Homo sapiens: one gene and its partners. The protein of the gene in region 2 interacts with the protein of the main gene of each other region in a pairwise test. Each region holds a gene or a part of one and is shown on either strand. Other genes may lie near its edges.

Region 1 (3,429 bases), on a different chromosome or scaffold from region 2:
CAAGGGCCCCTGTGAACTCAGAAGCGAGTGGCAAAAGGTGGTAGGTGTCTTGGATTGGAGAGGGTATTCATTTGGGGAGCTTGCATCCCCATAAAGGAGGAGGAGGAGGCCTGGGGTCTGTTGGAAGTGACTGGAGGATGTGTTGAAGGCAGCTCTCCAAGCCAGAGCCCCTTCCTCAGCTACAGCCACAGTGATACCTCTCCCCATGCCCCCATCACCCAGGTTCCTGTCTCCTCTCAAGGTGGAAGGGGCAGGTGAAGACTGCAGACAGGGAAGATGCCCTGCCAGAAGCCCAGCTGCACTTTCACCAGTTCCTACTCCATCCAGGCGAGAGGCCCCAAGTAGTCTAAATTTCTTTCTTTCTTTCTTTTTTATATGGAGTCTCGCTCTGTTGCCCAGGCTGGAGTGCAGTGGTGCGATCTCGGCTCACTGCAACCTCTGCCTCCTGGGTTCAAGGAATTCTCCTGCCTCAGCCTCCCTGGTAGTTGGGATTACAGGCACGTGCCACCATACCCAGCTAAATTTTGTATTTTTAGCAGAGACAGGGTTTTGCCATGTTGGCCAGGCTGGCCTCAAACTCTTGATATCAGGTGATCTGCCTGCCTCAGCCTCCCAAAGTGCTGGGATTACAGACGTGAGCCACCACGGCTGGCCAAGTTGTCTAAATTTCCATCTCGGCTCCTGGCTTAGAACCACCCAGAGTGGCCACTGACGGCTCCTTGCCCTCTAGGAAGGACATGATGCCCTGCTTTCGGCTGCGGAGGGCCAGTTGCAGGGGTGTGCAGCTCACTCCATCCTGGACGTCCAGCTGGGCGCCTGCCTCGACCAGCACTTTGAGGATGGCTGTGTTGCCCTTGAGGGCGGCCAGGTGGGCGGGTGTCCAGCCCACCTTGTTGCGGGCGTGGACATTTGCGTGATGTTCTAGGAGGTTGATGACACTCAGGAAGGTGCTCCTCTGGACCGCCAGGTGGAGGGGTGTCCAGCCTGACTGCTCTGCAGCATTGGGGTCAGCCCCACACTGCAGCAGTGCTGACACCACCGCCTCCTCCCCGTGGCGTGCAGCTAGGTGCAGGGGAGTCCAGTTCACAGCTCCAAGAGCACCCATGTTTGCGTGGCTCTCTGCCAGCAGATGGATGATCTCCAGGTGGCCCTTGTAGGCTGCTAGATGCAGGGGTGTCCAGCCCTGGTGGGTGGGCAGCTCAAGGCTGGCTCCGTACCTGAGCAGCATCTTGCAGATCAGGTATTTGCCCCTGGCAGCTGCAGTGTGCAGTGGGCCGTAGCCGCTCTGGTCAAGGGCATCAGGGACCGCTCCACTCTTCAGCAGGTGTTGGATGGCCCTCACTTTGCCCCGCTCTACTGCCAGGTGCAGTGGTGTTCTCAGGTTTCTCTGCTGAGCATCCAACTCAGCCCCCTGGCTGGTCAGCAGCTTGACCAGGCTAACATGGCCAAAGTAGGCGGCCACATGGAGGGGGGTCTTGCCCTCAGCCTCATGCAGGTTGGGGTCAGCCTGACGGGAGACCAGAAGCCGTGCCACATTCTCAAAGTTATTCTGTGCAGCCAGGTGAAGAGGGGTCCACCCTTCACGTTCCTGGGCATCCACACAGGCCCCGTGGTCCAGGAGCAGGCGCGCAGTGCCGTCATCCCCATTCTGGGCTGCAAAGTGCAGTGGGGCCCAGCCATCCTCATCCACTCGGTTGGCATCAGCACCATGTGCCAAAAGCAGGGCACAGAGGTCGGGTTGCTGGTCCTGGGCGGCGATCAGGAGGGGCGTGTATCCAGAGGCCGTCTGGCAGTCCACGTCTACCTCGTGGGCCAGCAGCAACCTCACCTGCTCCACACTGCCCTGGGCCACCAGGAAGTGGAGGGGGGTGACCTTGTTCTCATAGATACACAGTTCCTCATCTCTCGGGACCAAATTCTTACGGTCGGAGAGCTGAAGGGCCCGCTTCAGGTAGTTTCCTGAGTCTGCTGGGAGAAAGATGGGGTTGAAAAAAAAGACCTGTGACCCGTCCAGAGGTCATCATGGCCATCCCCCTGCCTCCTGGAAGTACCATCCAGGAACAGAGGCTAGAGCAGTAAGGGCAATGCCTTTCCTAAGCATGGCTCTCTACACAGCCATAAATGTTACTATTCAAGTTCAGGCTCGGTCGTCCTGGAGAGCTGAGTCCTGCAGTCCTTTCCTCACAGGTGAGGCAGAAAGAGCAGTGGGCTCAGGAGGCCCGAGTGCAAATCCTGATTTCACTCCTCAGCATCCCCCGACCTTAGCCAATTCACTGCCTCTTTGAGCTTCCATATCTGGATCAGATATGGAAGAGGGGACAAACAATGATCAGTTCATTCTACCATTGGAAGGACAAATTATATAGGTAAAAACTTTCAGTGGAGGACCTGAGGGAAAGTAAGCAATTCTAAGTTGGAAATAAACTTGTGGTTGGAGTTCTATGATCTAAACTCCCCTCTGAGGTCTTAAGGATCAACATCCTTCTGCTCTACCCAGTGGAGTATGAGAATTAAAATGACAAAAATGATCACTACCCAGGCCTAACCCTCACAGATTCTGGTTTAATTAGTCTAGGGTGTGCCCAAGGCAAAGCTTTTTTTTTTTTTTTTTTTTAATTTCCCGAGCAATTCTAACATGCAGCCAGCCTTGAGAACCAATGCTCCACCTTTCAGGTCAGGAAAGGGAAAATTCCGTCTTGCAAGGACACAGACTTGAAAGGGAGGCAGCCAGGCTCCCTGAGGGCATGTGCTTTCTGAACATGCAGCTGGGTGCTGGAAAAGGGCACCTAAACCCTGGATGTGTGATAGGCCTGGGGATGAGGGGGAGGCCAGGGGGATGGGGAAAGGGTGTGGTTTGACTCCATTTTCTCTGCTGTGAGTTCTCTGGTCCCGCCCGTGGCACCCAGACTCACCACTGTCCATCAGTTCCTGGCTGATGTCCTCATTAACCTGGGGAGGCATAACCAGCAGGCAGGGTGGAGATCAGTGGCGCAGTTCTAGCCTGTGCCCTCCTCCCCTCCTTCCCTCTCTCCAACCTTCCCGGTCACTGTCAGGACTCACATCCCACCCTATCCTGGGAAACCTTTATCCTTTGCCATGACTATCCCCAGCTGTCTAGAGGAAAACACTGAGCTGGAGAAACCCTCCAGAAAGAGGCAGCTCAGGGCCTTGCCTTCCCCTTGGGCCATGTGAACTTCAGGGTGGATCTGTGAGTTCAGCTGGGGGAGCCCCATGTTAACTCATGGCTGGTTCCCGTGTTAAGAATAGGGACAGAAGAGCAGGGGGATGATGTTGACACCCACAGCATGAAAGCTTGGGAGAGCCGGGCCTTCCTCTGCAGGACAGGAGTCAGTTTGGTCCCAAACATGAGAGAGAAGGTATATCCTTCCCAGGGGCCCTGTGCTCTAGCCACCACTATCCCTTGGAGTA
Region 2 (4,104 bases):
CCAGGGCCTGGCAGGGAAGCGGGAAGAGACCAGACCTTCTTAAGGAACGGGGTGTGGGGGCTGGGAAGAATTGGAGAGGGGATCCCTGAAGAGCCCAGAGCCTTGACTCAGCTGGAGGCGGTACCATGGGTGCTGGTGCCCCCTCCTGCCCCAAGGCTGGGCAGGACCGCTGCGCGCCAGTGGAGGCCTCGGTCTGGGCTCTGTGGCTTATGCCTGTGAGACGCGGGTGGATTGCTTGAGCCCAGGAGTTGGAAACCAGCTTGGGCAACATAGAGAAACCCCATCTTAAGACAAAATCAGCTGGGGGTTGTGGTGCACTTGTGGTCCCAGCTACTCAGGAGGCTGAGGTGGGAGGATCACTTGGGGGTCGAGGCTACAGTGAGTCATGATCGCACCACTGCACTCTAGCCTGGGTGACAGAGCAAGGCCCTATCTCAAAACAAACAAACAAAAGACACCCCAACCAACCAAACACTAGAGGCCTGGGACAGGCCCACCTCTGACGTGGTCAGTTCTAGGAATCTATTCAGACGGGTCTCACTGCTAGGAGCCACCAGAGTCCTCCGGAACAAGGGCTTCAGAGTCCTGAAACCTTTCCGTGGAATACTTTAAGAAACGGTTATGAGGCCAGGCGCGACGGCTCACGCTGGTAATCCCAGGACTTTGGGAGGCCGAGGCGGGCGGATCACGAGGTCAGGAGTTCCAGACCAGCTTGGCCAACATGGCAAAACCCTGTCTCTACTAAAAACAAAACATTAGCTGGGCATGGTGGCGCGCGCCTGTCGTCCCAGCGACTTGGGAGGTTGAGGCAGGAGAATCGCTTGAACCCGGGAGGTGGAGGTTATGGTGAGCCAAGATCCCCCCCAGCTGCACTCCAGCTTGGCGACAGAGCAAGACTCCGTCTCAAAAACAAAAAACAAAGCCGGTTATGAAGCGGGGGTGGGGTGGGCTAGTTTTAATAGGTCCAGGCGATTAGTACCTGGCATCCTTAACCACCTACAGTTTGAGAAGGGAGTGGGTGATAAAAGCCTGGAAGGGAAGGGAAATCGGGCCGGGCATTAGGCTCCATCGCTCATCAATAGACAAGGCCTTTAGGAAACTGCGACAACGGCTTTTGCTCTGGGCCTTTACTGCCGAATCCAGGTCTCCGGGCTTAACAACAACGAAGGGGCTGTGACTGGCTGCTTTCTCAACCAATCAGCACCGAACTCATTTGCATGGGCTGAGAACAAATGTTCGCGAACTCTAGAAATGAATGACTTAAGTAAGTTCCTTAGAATATTATTTTTCCTACTGAAAGTTACCACATGCGTCGTTGTTTATACAGTAATAGGAACAAGAAAAAAGTCACCTAAGCTCACCCTCATCAATTGTGGAGTTCCTTTATATCCCATCTTCTCTCCAAACACATACGCAGCAGTGTTACAGCTCTTTTAGAATTTGTCTAGTAGGCTTTCTGGCTTTTTACCGGAAAGCCCCTCTTATGATGTTTGTTGCCAATGATAGATTGTTTTCACTGTGCAAAAATTATGGGTAGTTTTGGTGGTCTTGATGCAGTTGTAAGCTTGGGGTATGAAGGTTTGGGCCACGCCTGGGCGCTTCCGGCTGCGCCGGATGCTGTTTCCTTTCCGCTCCCAGGGGCGTTGGGAACGGTTGTAGGACGTGGCTCTTTATTCGTGAGTTTTCCATTTACCTCCGCTGAACCTAGAGCTTCAGACGCCCTATGGCGTCCGCCTCGACCCAACCGGCGGCCTTGAGCGCTGAGCAAGCAAAGGGTGAGAATCGTCCTAGTCAAGGCATAGGCTGCTGGCCTGGGGTAGTCAAGGCATGGGCTGCTGGTCTGGGGAGGATGCGGGCGGAGGATGTGGGGCGACAAACCTGGCTACGTCCGCCGGGAAAATGGGGTAGGGGACGCCGGGTACCGTCCTTCTAAGTGGGGCGCTTGCCCCCAAGACTTGGGATCTTATTGGGTTACCTACAGCCTCAATCCACTAATTCCTTGCGCTCTCCGCTGGGCCCGCTGTCTGTTCTCCGACGCCTACCCGGGACGCCTCCCTGGGATGCTTCTGGCGCGCAGTGGTCCTCGCGGAGGTGATCCAGGCGTTCTCCGCCCCGGAGAATGCAGTGCGCATGGACGAGGCTCGGGATAACGCCTGCAACGACATGGGTAAGATGCTGCAATTCGTGCTGCCCGTGGCCACGCAGATCCAGCAGGAGGTTATCAAAGCCTATGGCTTCAGCTGCGACGGGGAAGGTGGGTCAGACGCGGGAAGGCGGGTCAGACGCGGGAAGGCGGGAGTTGGGTCGGGAGAGGGCGCCGGATCTGTGGGCCCATGAGCGGTTGTCCCCTTTCTCGCCACACGGCGGCAGCCACAATCTGACTAACATTCTTGGCACTCAGAGCCCAGGGTCTACCCTGAGCTTGTGCGTCCGAGTTGCGTTTTGTACAGTAGAGGTTCTGTATCCCTTACCCGAAATGGTTGGGACCGGAAGTGTTTCGGGTTTTTTCAGATTTCGGAATATTTACATATACATGGATATCTTGGGGGATGGGACCTAAATCTGAACACGAAATTGTTTTGTTTCATATACACGCACCTTATGCACATAGCCTGAGGGTAATTTTATATAATAGTCTGAATAATTTTGTGCATGAGACAAAGTTTTGACTGCGTTTTGACTACAGTCTCCCCCACCCCCCACTATGAAGTCAGGTGTGGAATTTTCCATTTTCGGCCTCACACTGGCACTCATAATTTCAGATTTTGGATTTTCTAATTAAGGATGGTCAACCTGTACTGTTAATCACATTATTATTCCATTTTGTGATGAGGAAGCAAACTCTAATGGTGCAGACTCTCGAGTAGCAGAGCTGGACTTAAATGCTGTTGTGCCACCTTTTAGTGACATGTCTGCATGACAGCAGTGGCTGCAGTCTCTCCAGGGTGTTTCAGCTAATTTTTGTTTGGGGGGGGTTGGTGGTTAAATTTTTGGTGAGATCCTGGTGTTCCCCAAAGGTGTTGACTGATTCAGCTCTGCTGCCTCATAGCCTTCCTGAGTTCCAGCTACAGACCTGGGGTCTCGTGTTCATTCTTGGGGTTCCAGTGACTAAACTGCTAAAATGGTTCACCTGAGAGCAAGAAGCACACTGCCTTGGGACATTTTCATTCACTGCATCCCATCTAGTTGTGCCCAGTGTAGACCAAATGTCATCATCCAAACCACACGGGACAGAGGCCTGCATGCGTCCTGTTTGGCAAACAGCTGCCCAGCCAGTGGGGGAGCAGTTCATGCTTAGACTACCACCCCCTCCAGGTGTCTTAGGCACGCTGGTCCTTAGGAGAAGGGTTGACCTTCCACTCCCTCTTGCAGGTGTCCTTAAGTTTGCTCGCTTGGTCAAGTCCTACGAAGCCCAGGATCCTGAGATCGCCAGCCTGTCAGGCAAGCTGAAGGCGCTGTTTCTGCCGCCCATGACCCTGCCACCCCATGGGCCTGCTGCTGGTGGCAGCGTGGCCGCCTCCTGAGAGTTGGCCCTCCCTTGTGCCACTGCCAGGGGAGGAAAGGCCTTGATGTTCCAGACAATAATAAATGCGCCTGTGACTTAGCCTTGGTGTCAGTCTCTTGCGGACCTGACAACCCCCATCTCTCCTTCCCTGATTCCCTCTGCCTTTCCAGGCCCCATCCCCCTGAACAGCTCCTCCCTATGGTCCTGGCTGGGCCTAACCCTGCCCCAGGGCCTAACCCTACCTGAGGCTCCTCCCCTTCCCCCGGGGCAGGTTGAGAGGCTGGAGTGGGTCCCTCAGCGCCCTGGGTGGGTGGGCCTGCACAGGGGGTACCTCCTTCTCTGAGGAACTGGGCTGTTAGGGATTTTCCTTAGGCCCTTTGGTTTCCGCCTACGGAGAGGTTTCCCCCATTGGTTGCTCTTCCTCAGCCAGGGTTACTTCCTGGTCTGTTCCCCTACCCAATACCCCGCCGCTCTGTCAGCTTGAGCTCCAGGTGGAGCTCCAGGTGGCTCCTCCTCTCCCGGGGGAAGGCGGCCCTGGACCAGCAGGCGGGCCTGCTGTACTCCCGCTTTGGGGCTGCAGGGAAGCTGGCCGCTGTGGG
Region 3 (2,799 bases), on a different chromosome or scaffold from region 2:
CCCCTAATGCCATGAATAGCCTCACACCCCATCCAAGTTGTGACATCTAAAACTGTCCCCAGACAAGTATCCCCTGGAAACAAAATCACCCTGGTTTGAGAACCACTGGTGTCAATTGTAAACTGCAGATTGGGTAGAGGGTAAACAACCCTCTAAATTTTCATAAGTCCTTTTTTTTTTCTTTTGAGACAGTCTTGCTCTGTCACTCAGGCTGGAGTGCAGTGGCACGATCTCGGGTCACTGCAGCCTTGCCTTCCCAGGCTCAAGCGATCCTCCCACCTCAGCCTCCCAAGTAGCTGGGACTACAGGCATGCAGAATTATGCCCAGCTAATTTTTGTATTTTCTGCAGAGATGAGGTTTTGCTGTATTGCCAAGGCTGGTCATGAACTCCTGGGCTCAAGCAACGCACCCACCTAGGCTTCCCAAAATGCTGGGATGACAGGTGTGAGCCACGGTGCCTGGCCTCAAAAAAATATCCTGATGGCTTCGTGCCTCCCTGTCTGTACCCTAGTCCTGGCCCTGGTGCAGGGATATACGACAAGTTTGTGCAGATGTGTTAACACGTGTCCACATGTCTCTGTGTGCCACTCCACTTGCGGTGTTAGGGATCCAGGGGAGGTGGTCTGCAAGGGTGTGTCCTCGTAGGGGTGTGTGTGTGTCTGTGGGTCCACCACACATGCGTGGGTGACCAGGAAGTGGACCCACAGACACATGTACACCCCTGCATGTCTCTGTACCACGAGGAGTCTGTGGGTGGGTCTCTGACCTGCTCTGGGTGTCTCACGGACCCTTGGACCTGTTGGGGAAACTGACACCATCTGTAGCTCCAAGACCCCCGACACTCCCTGGGCAGGGCATGGGGCACTCAGGTGGCATATGGGGACCCACGCAGCTGGGGATGTGAGTGTGGACATGAGTTGAGTGGATGAGAGGATTAACCAGGTGCCTGGCGTACAGTAGGTGCTTAATAAGTGCTCGCTTTTTTTTTTTTTTTTTTTTTTTGAGATGGAGTTTCATTCTTGTCACCTAGGCTGGAGTGCAATGGCATGATCCCAGCTCCCTGCAACCTCCACCTCCTGGGTTCAAGTGATTCTCCCACCCCAGCCTCCCCAGTAGCTGGGATTACAGGCGTCCACCACCACGCCTGACTAATTTTTGTATTTTTTAGTAGAGACAGGTTTTTACCATGTTGGCCAGGCTGATCTCAAACTCCTGACCTCAAGTGATCCACCCACCTCGGCCTCCCAAAGTGCTGGGATTACAGGCGTGAGCCACTGAGCCGGGCCAGTGCTCACTTTTTTTTTTTTTTTTTTGAGACAGAGTCTCACTCTGTCACCCAGGCTGGAGTGCAGTGGCGTGATCTCGGCTCACTGCAAGCTCTGCCTCCTGGGTTCACGTCATTCTCCTGCCTCAGCCTCCTGAGTAGCTGGGACTACAGGCGCCCGCCACCACACCCGGCTAATTTTTTGGTTGTTTTTTTTTTTAGTAGAGAAGGGGTTTCACTGTGTTAGCCAGGATGGTCTCAAACTCCTGACCTCGTGATCCGCCCACCTCGGCCTCCCAAAGTGCTGGGATTACAGGTGTAAGCCACTGCACCCGGCCAGTGCTCACTTTTTATCTGCATGCATGAGTGTTTGGTGGGTTACTCAGTGGGATGTGTGTGGATTCGTGCACATGCAGCATGGGGTAGCATGTCCTCTGTCGTTTCCGTTCCAGCTGAGTTTCACTCTGTCCCCAGGTGAGTTGCTACAGTGGCTGGAGAGACGACATCTGCTCCATGGGCTGGTGGCCGACAGTAATCTCACGCTGGGACCTGGCCTGCAGCCCCTGCCCCAGACCTCTCACCATCACCGCCACCACCGTGCAGCTGCCACCAACCCTGCACGCTACTGCTGCCTCAGTGGCTGTACCCAACAAGACCTGCTGACCCTCTGTCCCTACTGATTCCTCCTTGGGTGCAGCCTCAGAGTGGCCTGAGGCCCAGAGGGTCTGGTCTGGTGAGCTCCTGAGGCCACACAGCACCATAAAGTCTCGCATCTACAGGCCTTTGATTACCTCCTGGGATGGGTGCTCACTATCTACCCCAGACCAATGCCACCTGCAGCCTGTGGAGTCAACTGCAGAATAAATCACACCCTAGCCCTGGCTTGGAGGATCCCCGCTTTCACAGATGCTGGACACTGACAGCCAAATGTCCTCACTCCAGGGGAGCCCCAGACGCTCCGCTCCCTGCATGTGTAACACCCCTTCTTGCTGTCTCTTAGTAAATAAACGACCCAAAGCAGCTTCCTGCATTTTCTCTAGAAAAAGGGACAAGCCTCAGTCAGTCCCTGTGTGGGCTTGTCCCCCAGCAGCCATGGACCCACCGGCACTTCCAGGAGCTTGATAACTAGAGAGGCATTGCAACGCAAAGTGGGGAAACTGAGGCCCAGGGAGAGGGCTGCTTGCCAAGGTCAGACAGGGAAGGGTAAGTGCAGGACTTGAACCGAGGTCTCTACCAAGGCCCATGGGAGTCCTTAGCATTGAGGACTTAGAATGGTAGACATTAGACACAAAACAAATGTCAGAAAATGATCATCACAAAACACATTAGTCTTTTTTTTTTTTTTTTTTTTTGAGGCAGGGTCTCACTCTGTCACCCAGGCTGGAGTGCAGTGGCACAATCATAGCTTACTGCAGCCTCCAACTCCTGGGCTGAAGTGATCCTCCCACTTCAGCCTCCTAAGTAGCTGGGATTACAGGCACCCGCCACCACACCCAGCTAATTTTTGCATTTTTAGTAGAGACGGGGTTTCACC

The links.
Region 1: the proteins of C12orf57 (region 2) and ANKK1 interact in binary tests that used the Homo sapiens proteins (3 or more experiments, as listed by UniProt).
Region 3: the proteins of C12orf57 (region 2) and INSL3 interact in binary tests that used the Homo sapiens proteins (3 or more experiments, as listed by UniProt).

The regions. Positions count from the first base shown.
Region 1 is NC_000011.10:113,397,500-113,400,928, reverse strand, and holds the end of ANKK1 (ankyrin repeat and protein kinase domain-containing protein 1), read right to left. Parts: intron 2,950-3,429; coding exon 2,913-2,949; intron 1,969-2,912; coding exon of another isoform or gene 1,966-1,968; coding exon 662-1,965; 3' UTR 513-661; downstream 1-512.
Region 2 is NC_000012.12:6,942,399-6,946,502, forward strand, and holds C12orf57 (protein C10), read left to right. Parts: upstream 1-1,623; 5' UTR 1,624-1,723; coding exon 1,724-1,775; intron 1,776-1,981; exon of another isoform or gene 1,982-2,077; coding exon 2,078-2,254; intron 2,255-3,372; coding exon 3,373-3,524; 3' UTR 3,525-3,604; downstream 3,605-4,104. UniProt on the Homo sapiens protein: In brain, may be required for corpus callosum development.
Region 3 is NC_000019.10:17,816,000-17,818,798, reverse strand, and holds the end of INSL3 (insulin-like 3 isoform 2 precursor), read left to right. Parts: intron 1-1,739; coding exon 1,740-1,945; 3' UTR 1,946-2,287; downstream 2,288-2,799. UniProt on the Homo sapiens protein: Seems to play a role in testicular function. May be a trophic hormone with a role in testicular descent in fetal life. Is a ligand for LGR8 receptor.